Regions from separate parts of the Homo sapiens genome. Here region 1 is linked to region 2. The links come from fine-mapping of genetic effects on gene expression. Tissue or cell type: monocytes. Region 2 holds a variant in brackets; the other region holds the start of a gene. All regions are shown on one strand. Distances are between the middles of the regions.

Region 1 (5,640 bases), 530 kb before region 2:
TTTCAGTGGGGAGTAAATTTTTCATACAGTGTATTTCATTACAATACACCAAAAGACTAATTTAGCTTAGGTGACAGAATAATACCCATACCTGCTCAGCATTACTTCAGTGAGTTCCCACAAACGCGTCTCTTTCTATTCTATATATTACATGAACCAAATGTAAATGAATTTCCAGTTAGCCCATTAATAAAACAATTGTAGAGAACAATTGAATTTACTGTAGTATAATTATAACAAATATTAACCACCTTTAAATTGGTAGTAAAACATCAGCAAGTAGAAAAAATGGCACTAATATCCTATGATCAGTGATTATCTTCCATAGGAAACCCATTGGTCTGAACATAATTTGTCACAGCAGTGAGGCTTATTTCATAATTTTTATCGAATATTTAGCAACTGAAATTGTGTTTTTTAAAGCAGAAATGCTTTAACACTGAGAGATATATTTTTTAAAAGGTTTATTATCATAATTAGCTTTTTATGATCAAAATCCTTCCTATGAAGATAATTGTGAGGTACGTGCAAATAAATTTTCCAACCCTCCCCTCCTTCCAGAAAAGAGTATTTTTCCCCCATAGAGGTACAGTACCTTTATTTAGCTTTTTTTGGGGGGTGGGGGGTGGAGGGACGGAGGTAGGGACAGGGCCATTTGAAAAGTAAATGTCCATGGATTTGATTTGTTGTCTTACAAAATGTTAATTACTCCACTACCCCCATCCCAGCGCTAAACATCAAACCTGTGAAAAGCCCTTTGGCCTTATCTGGATTACATTGTTACTAGTAAACAACCCTTTTATAATCTCTCTTTTTTCTTGTCTAGGGTAAAACCAGGCACACAGTTACACTTTTCCACCAACTTCAGGCTTCTTTATTCTGCACCTCCCTGCCCTACCCCCTGTAAGGCACTCTATACCCCCAGAATTTCGGTCACTGTGAGTGCCGCCTCGCTTCCATTTCCAAATATCTGCTATTAATAGCCTTGCTGTAGTGGGCACGTGTGCCCACATCACCAAGCTGTCAGAGGAAAAGAAGGGAGGGCTTTCAATTCAACATGTGTACTCAAATTATAGATTAACCAGGTTTAGATGAGGCTGCATGACGACCGGGAACAGGAAGGGGAGAGGAGAAACGAGAGGCTCCCAGGCTTGGGTGGGGAGGAGCCCCTCTGCAGATGCCCAATCCCCCTAATTTACGTATCGCACACCCCTGAATGGCGCCTATGGTTCTTTTTCTCCTTCATCATCATCATCTTCTTTTTCTTTTTTTACTACGCTTTGCAACCTACCTTGGTACCCTCAACCCTTCTACCCCCACCTTCCCTCTGCAGTGCAAGGCTTGAAAAACAGGCCATCCCACCAATCAGCAGGCCTCCCCGGGAAACTCGCTCCGCCCCTCAGCCGCATTGGGCCGAGGCGCGCTCCCCCGCGGCCCGCCGGGTCCCAGCCACTGAGCATGCCCAGCGCCTCGACTGCTGAGTGCCCAGCCAGCATCCTGCAGTGCCTGGGAGCCTGAGGCCGAGGAGGGTCCCGGCGTAGTAAAGGGGCGGCAACCCCAAACGGGCCAGGCATCAAAATGAGACAGCATTAAACCGAGTGACATCTCTGTGGGTCCTTAGTGCCAGGCGAGCAAGCAGGGACAAACTGCTTGTTTATAGGTCGGCTTAAAAAATAAAAAAACTCTGGGGAGCGTTTGTTTGTGGGGAGACTGATACCGCAAGGTGACCCTGAAAGGGGCGCTTCAAGTAGACCCAGGCTGCTGATCTGGTCCACTCATGAAGTAACCATTTTCCTGTACAGTTGAGCTGGCACCATCCTTGTTTTCTCCCTGTTATCCTTGTGGTCAAGGTTAAAAACTTATAGGGTGGTTCAATGGGTGTGGGAGCTGTGTGTGAAACAAACATTTCAGCCAATATTTGCACAGTAGGGTTTTGGCCTTATGAACCCTCTGAAGGTCCCTAACAGCTTTTTAAAGTCACGGATAGACTTCGGAATATGATAAGGGACCTCTCATTTCCCCTCCCCCATGCCCTCAGCCTTAGGTGTGAGTCCCCCCGTCACACGGATGGGCAAGGGGAGCAGGAGAAAAGGTGATATTTACATTTTCTCCCTACTTGATCAGCAACTAATTCCACAGCGCCGGACGTGAGACACTTCCTGGGGATCCCTGTTCTCCTTTTGTAGTGACCATAACTGCCCCCAGTCACTGCCCTTGGGCGTCCCTCTGTTCCTTCCAGGTACCTCACGGCAGCAAATCTGGGGATCCCAAGGTGGAAGGCTGGCCCAGAAGTCCTTTAGAAAAACCTTAAAAAATACAGATCCCCTCACCATGGCCTATCGCCCTGAAGCCGAAATCTAGCTTTTAAATTTCCTGGGGGAAACAGCCTTGACTAGAAACCTCCCTCCCGTGGGTCAGTCTTACCTGATAGGTAAGAGGCAGCCCAGCTCCGGCGCCCCCGCCTCCCCCCGGCCTCCCACTCGGGGCTCTGTAGCCGCAGTGCCCCCCCGTGGCCCCCCACCCTCACTCCTGCGTCTTCCCGAGCTCGCCCCCTCCCGTTTTCCCAGACTCCCCTCGTGCTTTCGGGTAGCCACCCAAACACCCCCGCCTGCGCCCGCCGCGGGGATTCCTGCGGGCCGGGGGCGCCCCGGTTGGCGCGCGTGTAGGGAGGCGCTGCGCCGGAGCTGGCGGCCGCGCAGGGGCGCTGTCCTAGCGCTGCGCCGGGGTCGGCGCGGGCGCCGCTGCAGCACGGCTGGGGGGCGGAGAGGGGCGGGCGCGGGGCGGGCTCGGCCCGGAATGTAGAGACCCGGGCGGGAGCCTCCCGGCGGCGGCTGCCCGGCTGCCGAGCGCGGAGGCTCCGTCACGTGTTTTTCTCCTCCGAGTGAGACGGCGGCGCGGTCGGAGGGGGCCGGCGCGCAGAGCCAGACGCCGCCGCTTGTTTTGGTTGGGGCTCTCGGCAACTCTCCGAGGAGGAGGAGGAGGAGGGAGGAGGGGAGAAGTAACTGCAGCGGCAGCGCCTCCCGAGGAACAGGCGTCTTCCCCGAACCCTTCCCAAACCTCCCCCATCCCCTCTCGCCCTTGTCCCCTCCCCTCCTCCCCAGCCGCCTGGAGCGAGGGGCAGGGATGAGTCTGTCCCTCCGGCCGGTCCCCAGCTGCAGTGGCTGCCCGGTATCGTTTCGCATGGAAAAGCCACTTTCTCCACCCGCCGAGATGGGCCCGGATGGGGGCTGCAGAGGACGCGCCCGCGGGCGGCGGCAGCAGCAGCAGCAGCAGCAGCAGCAACAGCAACAGCCGCAGCGCCGCGGTCTCTGCGACTGAGCTGGTATTTGGGCGGCTGGTGGCGGCTGGGACGGTTGGGGGGTGGGAGGAGGCGAAGGAGGAGGGAGAACCCCGTGCAACGTTGGGACTTGGCAACCCGCCTCCCCCTGCCCAAGGATATTTAATTTGCCTCGGGAATCGCTGCTTCCAGAGGGGAACTCAGGAGGGAAGGCGCGCGCGCGCGCGCGCTCCTGGAGGGGCACCGCAGGGACCCCCGACTGTCGCCTCCCTGTGCCGGACTCCAGCCGGGGCGACGAGAGATGCATCTTCGCTCCTTCCTGGTGGCGGCGGCGGCTGAGAGGAGACTTGGCTCTCGGAGGATCGGGGCTGCCCTCACCCCGGACGCACTGCCTCCCCGCCGGGCGTGAAGCGCCCGAAAACTCCGGTCGGGCTCTCTCCTGGGCTCAGCAGCTGCGTCCTCCTTCAGCTGCCCCTCCCCGGCGCGGGGGGCGGCGTGGATTTCAGAGTCGGGGTTTCTGCTGCCTCCAGCCCTGTTTGCATGTGCCGGGCCGCGGCGAGGAGCCTCCGCCCCCCACCCGGTTGTTTTTCGGAGCCTCCCTCTGCTCAGCGTTGGTGGTGGCGGTGGCAGCATGGCGAGCCCTCCGGAGAGCGATGGCTTCTCGGACGTGCGCAAGGTGGGCTACCTGCGCAAACCCAAGAGCATGCACAAACGCTTCTTCGTACTGCGCGCGGCCAGCGAGGCTGGGGGCCCGGCGCGCCTCGAGTACTACGAGAACGAGAAGAAGTGGCGGCACAAGTCGAGCGCCCCCAAACGCTCGATCCCCCTTGAGAGCTGCTTCAACATCAACAAGCGGGCTGACTCCAAGAACAAGCACCTGGTGGCTCTCTACACCCGGGACGAGCACTTTGCCATCGCGGCGGACAGCGAGGCCGAGCAAGACAGCTGGTACCAGGCTCTCCTACAGCTGCACAACCGTGCTAAGGGCCACCACGACGGAGCTGCGGCCCTCGGGGCGGGAGGTGGTGGGGGCAGCTGCAGCGGCAGCTCCGGCCTTGGTGAGGCTGGGGAGGACTTGAGCTACGGTGACGTGCCCCCAGGACCCGCATTCAAAGAGGTCTGGCAAGTGATCCTGAAGCCCAAGGGCCTGGGTCAGACAAAGAACCTGATTGGTATCTACCGCCTTTGCCTGACCAGCAAGACCATCAGCTTCGTGAAGCTGAACTCGGAGGCAGCGGCCGTGGTGCTGCAGCTGATGAACATCAGGCGCTGTGGCCACTCGGAAAACTTCTTCTTCATCGAGGTGGGCCGTTCTGCCGTGACGGGGCCCGGGGAGTTCTGGATGCAGGTGGATGACTCTGTGGTGGCCCAGAACATGCACGAGACCATCCTGGAGGCCATGCGGGCCATGAGTGATGAGTTCCGCCCTCGCAGCAAGAGCCAGTCCTCGTCCAACTGCTCTAACCCCATCAGCGTCCCCCTGCGCCGGCACCATCTCAACAATCCCCCGCCCAGCCAGGTGGGGCTGACCCGCCGATCACGCACTGAGAGCATCACCGCCACCTCCCCGGCCAGCATGGTGGGCGGGAAGCCAGGCTCCTTCCGTGTCCGCGCCTCCAGTGACGGCGAAGGCACCATGTCCCGCCCAGCCTCGGTGGACGGCAGCCCTGTGAGTCCCAGCACCAACAGAACCCACGCCCACCGGCATCGGGGCAGCGCCCGGCTGCACCCCCCGCTCAACCACAGCCGCTCCATCCCCATGCCGGCTTCCCGCTGCTCGCCTTCGGCCACCAGCCCGGTCAGTCTGTCGTCCAGTAGCACCAGTGGCCATGGCTCCACCTCGGATTGTCTCTTCCCACGGCGATCTAGTGCTTCGGTGTCTGGTTCCCCCAGCGATGGCGGTTTCATCTCCTCGGATGAGTATGGCTCCAGTCCCTGCGATTTCCGGAGTTCCTTCCGCAGTGTCACTCCGGATTCCCTGGGCCACACCCCACCAGCCCGCGGTGAGGAGGAGCTAAGCAACTATATCTGCATGGGTGGCAAGGGGCCCTCCACCCTGACCGCCCCCAACGGTCACTACATTTTGTCTCGGGGTGGCAATGGCCACCGCTGCACCCCAGGAACAGGCTTGGGCACGAGTCCAGCCTTGGCTGGGGATGAAGCAGCCAGTGCTGCAGATCTGGATAATCGGTTCCGAAAGAGAACTCACTCGGCAGGCACATCCCCTACCATTACCCACCAGAAGACCCCGTCCCAGTCCTCAGTGGCTTCCATTGAGGAGTACACAGAGATGATGCCTGCCTACCCACCAGGAGGTGGCAGTGGAGGCCGACTGCCGGGACACAGGCACTCCGCCTTCGTGC
Region 2 (6,444 bases):
TGCAAAACTAGGGTACAAAATTACAACCAATATATTGACATTGATACAATTAAGATAGAGAACATTTCTGCCACACAAAGATACTTCATGTTGCACTTTGATAACCACTCTGTCTTCCCTCCTCTCTACACCCCTTACCCATAGCAACCACTGGCCTGTTCTCTATTTCTATAATTTTTGTCATTTTAAGAATCTTATATAAAAGGAATGATACATAATATAACTTAGAATTCACTTTTTGCATTCAGCGTAACTCTCAGGAGGTTCATTCAGGTTGTTTGTGTATCAATTTTCATTATTTTTTGTTTATGAGTAGTATTCCATGACAGAGATGTACCAGAGCTGGTTTAATCATTCACCCATTGAAAAACAATTGAGTTGTTTCCAGTTTGGGGCTATTACAAATAAAATCTCTATAAACATTTGCATACAGGATTTGTGTGAACATAAATCTGCATTTCTCTGGGATAAATGCCTAAAAGTGCTATTGCTAGATCATAAAATAGTTGCACGATAGATTTTTTTAAAAACTGCTAAACTATTTCCCAGAGTGGCTGTCCCATTTCACATTCTTGCCAGCAATGTATGAATAATGTAGTTTGCCCACATCGTTCAGAGCATTTGGTGTTGTCAACATATTTTACTTTAGCCTTCCTGATAGGTTTGTAGTGATATCTCATTGCAGTTTTAATTTGCATTTCCCTAATGGATAATGATATTGACTGTCTTTTCAAATGTTTATTTGCAATCTATATATTCTCTTCAGTGAAATATTTCTTCATATCTTTGACCATTTTCTAATTGAATTGTTTGGTTTCTTTTGCTCTTGAGTTTTGAGAGTTCTTTTTATTTCCTGGATATTATGGTCATCTCCATATGCAATTTGGAAATATTTTCTCCCACTCTGTAGCATGTCTTTTGATTCTCTTAAAGAGCAAATCTAAGAACAGAAGGGAACTTCCTTAGCTTTAGAAAGAAAATCTACAAAAACTTTTTAGCTAGCATTCTGCAGTGAAACCACCTGTGCCTGTAGATTTCTGTTTTAGGAGTTCTTAAATTACAAATTCAATTTCTTTAAGCTATAGGGCTATTTAAATTATCTGTTTTATAATGGGTGAGTTTTGGTTGTTTTTGGTTTTTGAGAAAGTGATCCATTTCCTCCAAAATTTCAAATTTATGTGGCTAGAGTTGTTTGTGGGATTCCTCCAGTGTCCTTTTGAAATCTGCAGGGTTGTGGTTATATCTTCTCTTTCTCTTCTGATATTGATAGCATGTGTGTTCTCTCTCTCTTTTTTCCTTTGTCAGTCTTGCTAGAGGTTTGGTAATTTTATCGATCTTTTCAGCTCTTTGTTTCATTGATTTTCTCTATGGTTTTTCTCTTTTCAGTTTCATTGATTTATAGTCTTTACTATTTTCTCCTTTCTGTTTAGTTTTATTTTTTCCCTGCTCTTCTTTGTTTTTGGTTTTTGAAGAGGGAGCTTACTGACTGATTTCAAACTTTTCCTCTTTTCTAATGTGTGCATTTAGTGCTACAGATTCCCTCTCAACACCACATTAGCCGTGTCCCACCAATTTTCATATGTTGTATTTAGTTCAATGTATTCTTTAAATTTCCTTTGAGACTTCCTCTTTGACAATGGATTATTTAAAAGCATAAGGGCTGGGGGACCAGGGGTAGAATGCTATAGACTGAGTGTTTGTGTTTCCTTAAAATTCATGTGTTGAAATGTAATTTCCCATGTGATAGTATTAGGAGGTGGTCTTCTGGGAGGTCACGAGGACAGAGCCTTCGTGAATGGGATTAGTGCCCTTATAAAAGAGATCCCAGAGACCGCCCGTGCTCCTTCTGCCATGTGAGGACGTAGTAAAAACATGCTGTCTGTGAACCAGAAAGCTAGTCCTCACCAGATACTGAATATTCCAGTGACTGTTGTACTTCCAGCATCCAGGACTGTGAGAAAATAAGTTTCTCACCATGTCTATGGTGTTTTGTTCAATAGCCTAAACAGACCAAAACATACAGCTTTTATATATTAGTTGCTCTAAGAATTACTTTATATATGTGTGTGTATATACACATGTATGTGTGTATGAAGATTATGTATATATAAAGTTATATATATATATGTGTTATTAGTGTCATATTACCAGTTCAAATAAGATATAGAACTCTTATCCTTTTATCTTCCTCTATTTATAATATAATTTTCATAAATATTTCTTTCACATACATTTAGAACCACATCAGGCAGTGTCATAATTTTTGCATCAACCATTAAACTTAATTTGGGAAACTCAAGAAATAGATATTTTAAGAATAGCATGCATGTATTTGTGTGAATACACACACACACACACACACACACACACACACAAATCCATATTAAAAATAAGAGGGGTTCATTGCTATTCACACTGTTGATAGACATTAATCAAATATGTTTTATTTGCAATCAGATTATTTATAGAC[TTA/A]TTTCTTTCAATCTTCTAAAAGACAATCTGAGGAAGTGGCAATAAATCAATAGAAGAATTGCAAAATCCTCCTAGAGCATTTAAACCTTCTCCTCTAAGCAGTGATTTATCACCATGAGAACTTGATGGCATTGCTTGTATTTCATATTATTAGTTGTTTTATGCATGTTTGCTCTTAGGCTTGGTTGTGCAGTCTCTAATAATGACTCCCTTGGAGAAGAAGCCTTCTCCCTTGGAGAAGAGAACATCACATAGAAACACGAAAACAAAACAATGGGGAAGTCTTTATACTGCATCTCATGAAGCAATGTTGCATATGCCTTTGCCATTACACAAAAATACCTCAGTTGACCACTTCTACTTTGTCCAAATGAAAAAAACAATGAGCTCAGTACAGACAAGGGGTTCTCAACAGCATCACTATTGGCATCTGAGACAGAACATTCTTTTCTTGTGGGGGCTGTCCTGTGCCTTGTAGGATAAGTGACATTCTTGACCTCTACAAATAGATGCCAATGGTACCTCTACCTCACCTCATCTCAGTGGCAACAAGCAAACATTTCTCCAGACGTTCCTAAGCCTCTCCTGGCGGGTGGGGGGGCTGTGGCCCCTGATTGAGAGCTGTTGATGTAAAGATGGGAGCTCTGACACTTGCCCTCTCTTGTCTCTGCTCTGTGCTTGTAGGCTTACTTCTTCCATTTCAGTGATAAACCCTTATTCATGACCAGCAAGCTGTCCATCTTTCTCCCCTCTGTTTACTTATAAACAGAGAATTCATTACTTAATTAATTTTATTCCTGCATTAATGTGTACAATTCCCACTACTGGGGAATGTGCTTGGTTCCAGTGGACAGATCTGATCATTCCTTGAAGAGGCCATCTTCATCAACAAAGCACCCTGCTTAGCCAGCCACAGCTACCAGATCAGAGCACAGGCAGGGTGCCTTGATGTCTCGGAAAACTTGGCATCATCCTGAAATGGGGTTTTGAGACAGCTGGGTTTTAAATTTTAATGTATTTATATGACATCTCAGAAATGAAGCAACGGACACAAAGAGATTGGAGGTGTAGTTTCCCAGTTCATCATTTTTAGCTACATATTTCTCAAAAACTGTTTCTTTGGACAGTAGTTTCAAATTATTCTCATAGGAGTAAAGCAAAAAAGGCTTTCATAGTCAGGTGAATTTGGGAACATATGAAGTTAAGCAAGACTCTTACTCAGAGCTTACTCAGAGCTTTTTATGTCCTATTAAAAAGGATAAGGCTAAGGCGGGAGAATCACTTGAAACCAGGAGGCGGTGGTTTCAGTGAGCCGAGATCGCGCCACTGCACTCCGGCCTGGGCGACAAAGGAAAACTCTGTCTCAAAAAAAAAAAAAAAAAAAAAAGATAAACAATAAGATAAAATGATACACAATATAAAAAGGATACATAATAGGACCTAACATTTTAAACTTTTTTATATCCTAGATATAGTTAATCATAGGGCCTTTTGTCTTCACAGAATATGTCGTCTGATCACTGATCCCCATATTACACTCTGGGAAATCTTGCAAACCTTAATTCAAAAAGTTGTACTTTAGGAAGCTTTGACCTAATTTTTTATTTTGGGAGAGAGGAAAAGACAGACACATAAACAGAGAAGTAATTATTTGTCTCACATCATTTATAGAATAAATTATTTTGATCTTACAATTTCAGTAGGTCATCCCTCATGAAAGGTAAGCACATTTCCCAAAGTTCATTGGACTGAGAATAGGACTGAATTATATCTTCTCCAGATGAACTATGGAATGGTGGGTAGAAGCTCATCAACTCCATCTTTAATGTGTTAACTAATTATGTAGCCTTAAGGAAAAAGTTTCCTGTCTCAGAATCTATTAATGTCTCCATCTATTAATAGATCACTTGGTCTCTAGTTGGCCCTCCATCTCTGAGTCACTATGACATCTTTAGCTTGTCAATTCATAAGTAAAACAGATAATGCTTGACCAGGCCTCTGAAGGACTTGTGGTGGGAAGATTTTTGTCTAAAGGCAATTTAAATGTTTAATGTCAATTTGTGCTACATTCTGTAACAAATATCCTTCTGGGATTTCAGGTTTCCCTTTTGGATGTTAGATTATTAACACTGGATGTTAGAAATATTTCATGTTTCTATAGTTCTGATACCAGCCTCAGAGTTTACAGTGGAGACAAGATATTTAGTGATTTTCTGCAATGTACTAATGAGGCTATTATAAATTACCATGTTCTTCCATTTGAAAAAGAAAGGGCAGTTACCTAATCTAAGCCTTTATAACCTACTCAACAGAGTAGAAAAATATCTACAAAAATTGCAAATTTAAAGTCGACAGGAAGCACATACATAAAAGAAGATGTCTGAAGAGCTGCTTTTATAATTCAAGCCATACTGTACAACTTAACCTTAGTATATGATATTATTTTTTCATCTAGAAATGTGGGCAGATCTACTAAAAGTTATTTGAGTTGTATAAATTTTAAAAATCATTTTACTGAAGTAAATTCAAGGTAGACATATATGTGTATCTTATCTTGTTCATTTATCTAAGCGTTCTCACAAATACTTTTAGAATCCATTTTGTTCTAGAAAAAAATGGAGAAGATATTCTTTTGTTTTTATCTCTCTCTTCCACTTTCATAGAATTTGCAATTCTCCTTAAAACATTGGGATGACCATTAAACAAAGGCAGCTCTGTCACTGTATTTTCCAACATTTCACATTTGAATTCCTGTAGATTCTACTTGCAAAGGTTACATTTCAACTCTGTCATGTTCAAGCTCAATTTATTAACTAGCAAATTATTTTCTGTTAGCCAAGCTCCTGGTTGCCAATTCCTTTATCCTTTATTTCATTATTTCCATCCATTTTTTTATTGTTGTTGTTCATCTGCTTACTGTGAAAAAATATTCTCCAGTCAGCAGATTTTCTCAGAATCTGTGAAAAGAGCATTGATCTGTTTGCTGGCCATCACAAGGGTAGGGCTGTGTAAGGAGGGGAGTCTGTCAGAGTAGAAAGTCGTCTTGTGACTAGATTTGAAAGATCTAAAATCAGGATGCTGAAATGTATGCAATGGCAATATCTGGCTTTCAGTGCAGGTAGAAAAATGAAATGAAAGCCTTTCCATTCAATCCTCAGAAAATATAATTGACTGCAGATGTGCCTATAATTGCAGTGCTGTGCAGCACAGCACAATAGAAAACTTTATTGCTTTGTGTCCCTCTAACACCCATTTGCATCTGTTTGTTGGTTGAATGTATTGGCTGTAATCAACACGTACAGATCTTGGCTGGCTCTTGCTTTGCTAAAGGTCTTTCATGGCAGAGTGCTTTGTTATTTATCTAGATATGTTTCTGTTTTCCTAAAAGAATACACTTTGATAGAAAAGAAGCAAAAAAGAAATGTGCCATTCAGAGATATACTAGGTAAGTTCTGTGCCAAAATGTTAGAAGAGTGACAGGATGTATTGCATCTGAGATAATGGAATCATGTGCTTGGAGGTGTGAACAGGTGACTGAGAATGGGATGCATTCATCATGAAGACCAATGTGCATTGGCTGTCTATGATGGTATTTTTCAAATATACATAACCTATTATATATATACTTATGTAACAGGGTAATAAGCACTTCCTTAAGTTAAAAACAAATCAGAAGACTAAGCAAGTTGATACGATAGAAATTGGGGAAGTCTCTATAATCCTCCTGAACTTCAGTAATATAAAAATGTCATCTACAAAAGAGACACTCATTTTCTGGCTATTTGTTGTTCACATTTCATTCTCTCTTCCAGCTGTTCCTGAAGGTTAGTTGATCTCAGCTTGTTTCCCTCTCCCTTTCAGCGAATAGAGGCGGCAAGGCCAATTGTTAAATTCAGATCAGTTGCATACAGATTGGGCACTCATATTCGATTTGGGGTACTCTGATCTAGTCCTAAGTCACTCAGAGAGACT

Evidence for each region. PIP is the estimated chance that this variant, and not a neighbour inherited with it, causes the effect.
Region 1: IRS1 starts here. The variant in region 2 is fine-mapped to the expression of IRS1 in monocytes (Quach 2016, PIP 0.95).

Annotation. Positions count from the first base shown.
Region 1 is chr2:226,797,007-226,802,646 of GRCh38, reverse strand. It overlaps IRS1 (insulin receptor substrate 1), which reads left to right and starts at 2,827. Exons shown (of 2, transcript NM_005544.3): 1 at 2,827-5,640. The coding sequence starts at 3,909. It also overlaps a transcript of RHBDD1 not described here. RefSeq lists silencers at 1,289-1,498, 2,459-2,528, 2,549-2,968, 3,959-4,008 and an enhancer at 4,739-5,640.
Region 2 is chr2:226,271,603-226,278,046 of GRCh38, reverse strand. No RefSeq gene overlaps it. Among named protein-coding and RNA genes, the nearest start is that of MIR5702, 380 kb to the left of the region's middle. The variant TTA/A (reference allele first, on the strand shown) is at 2,471.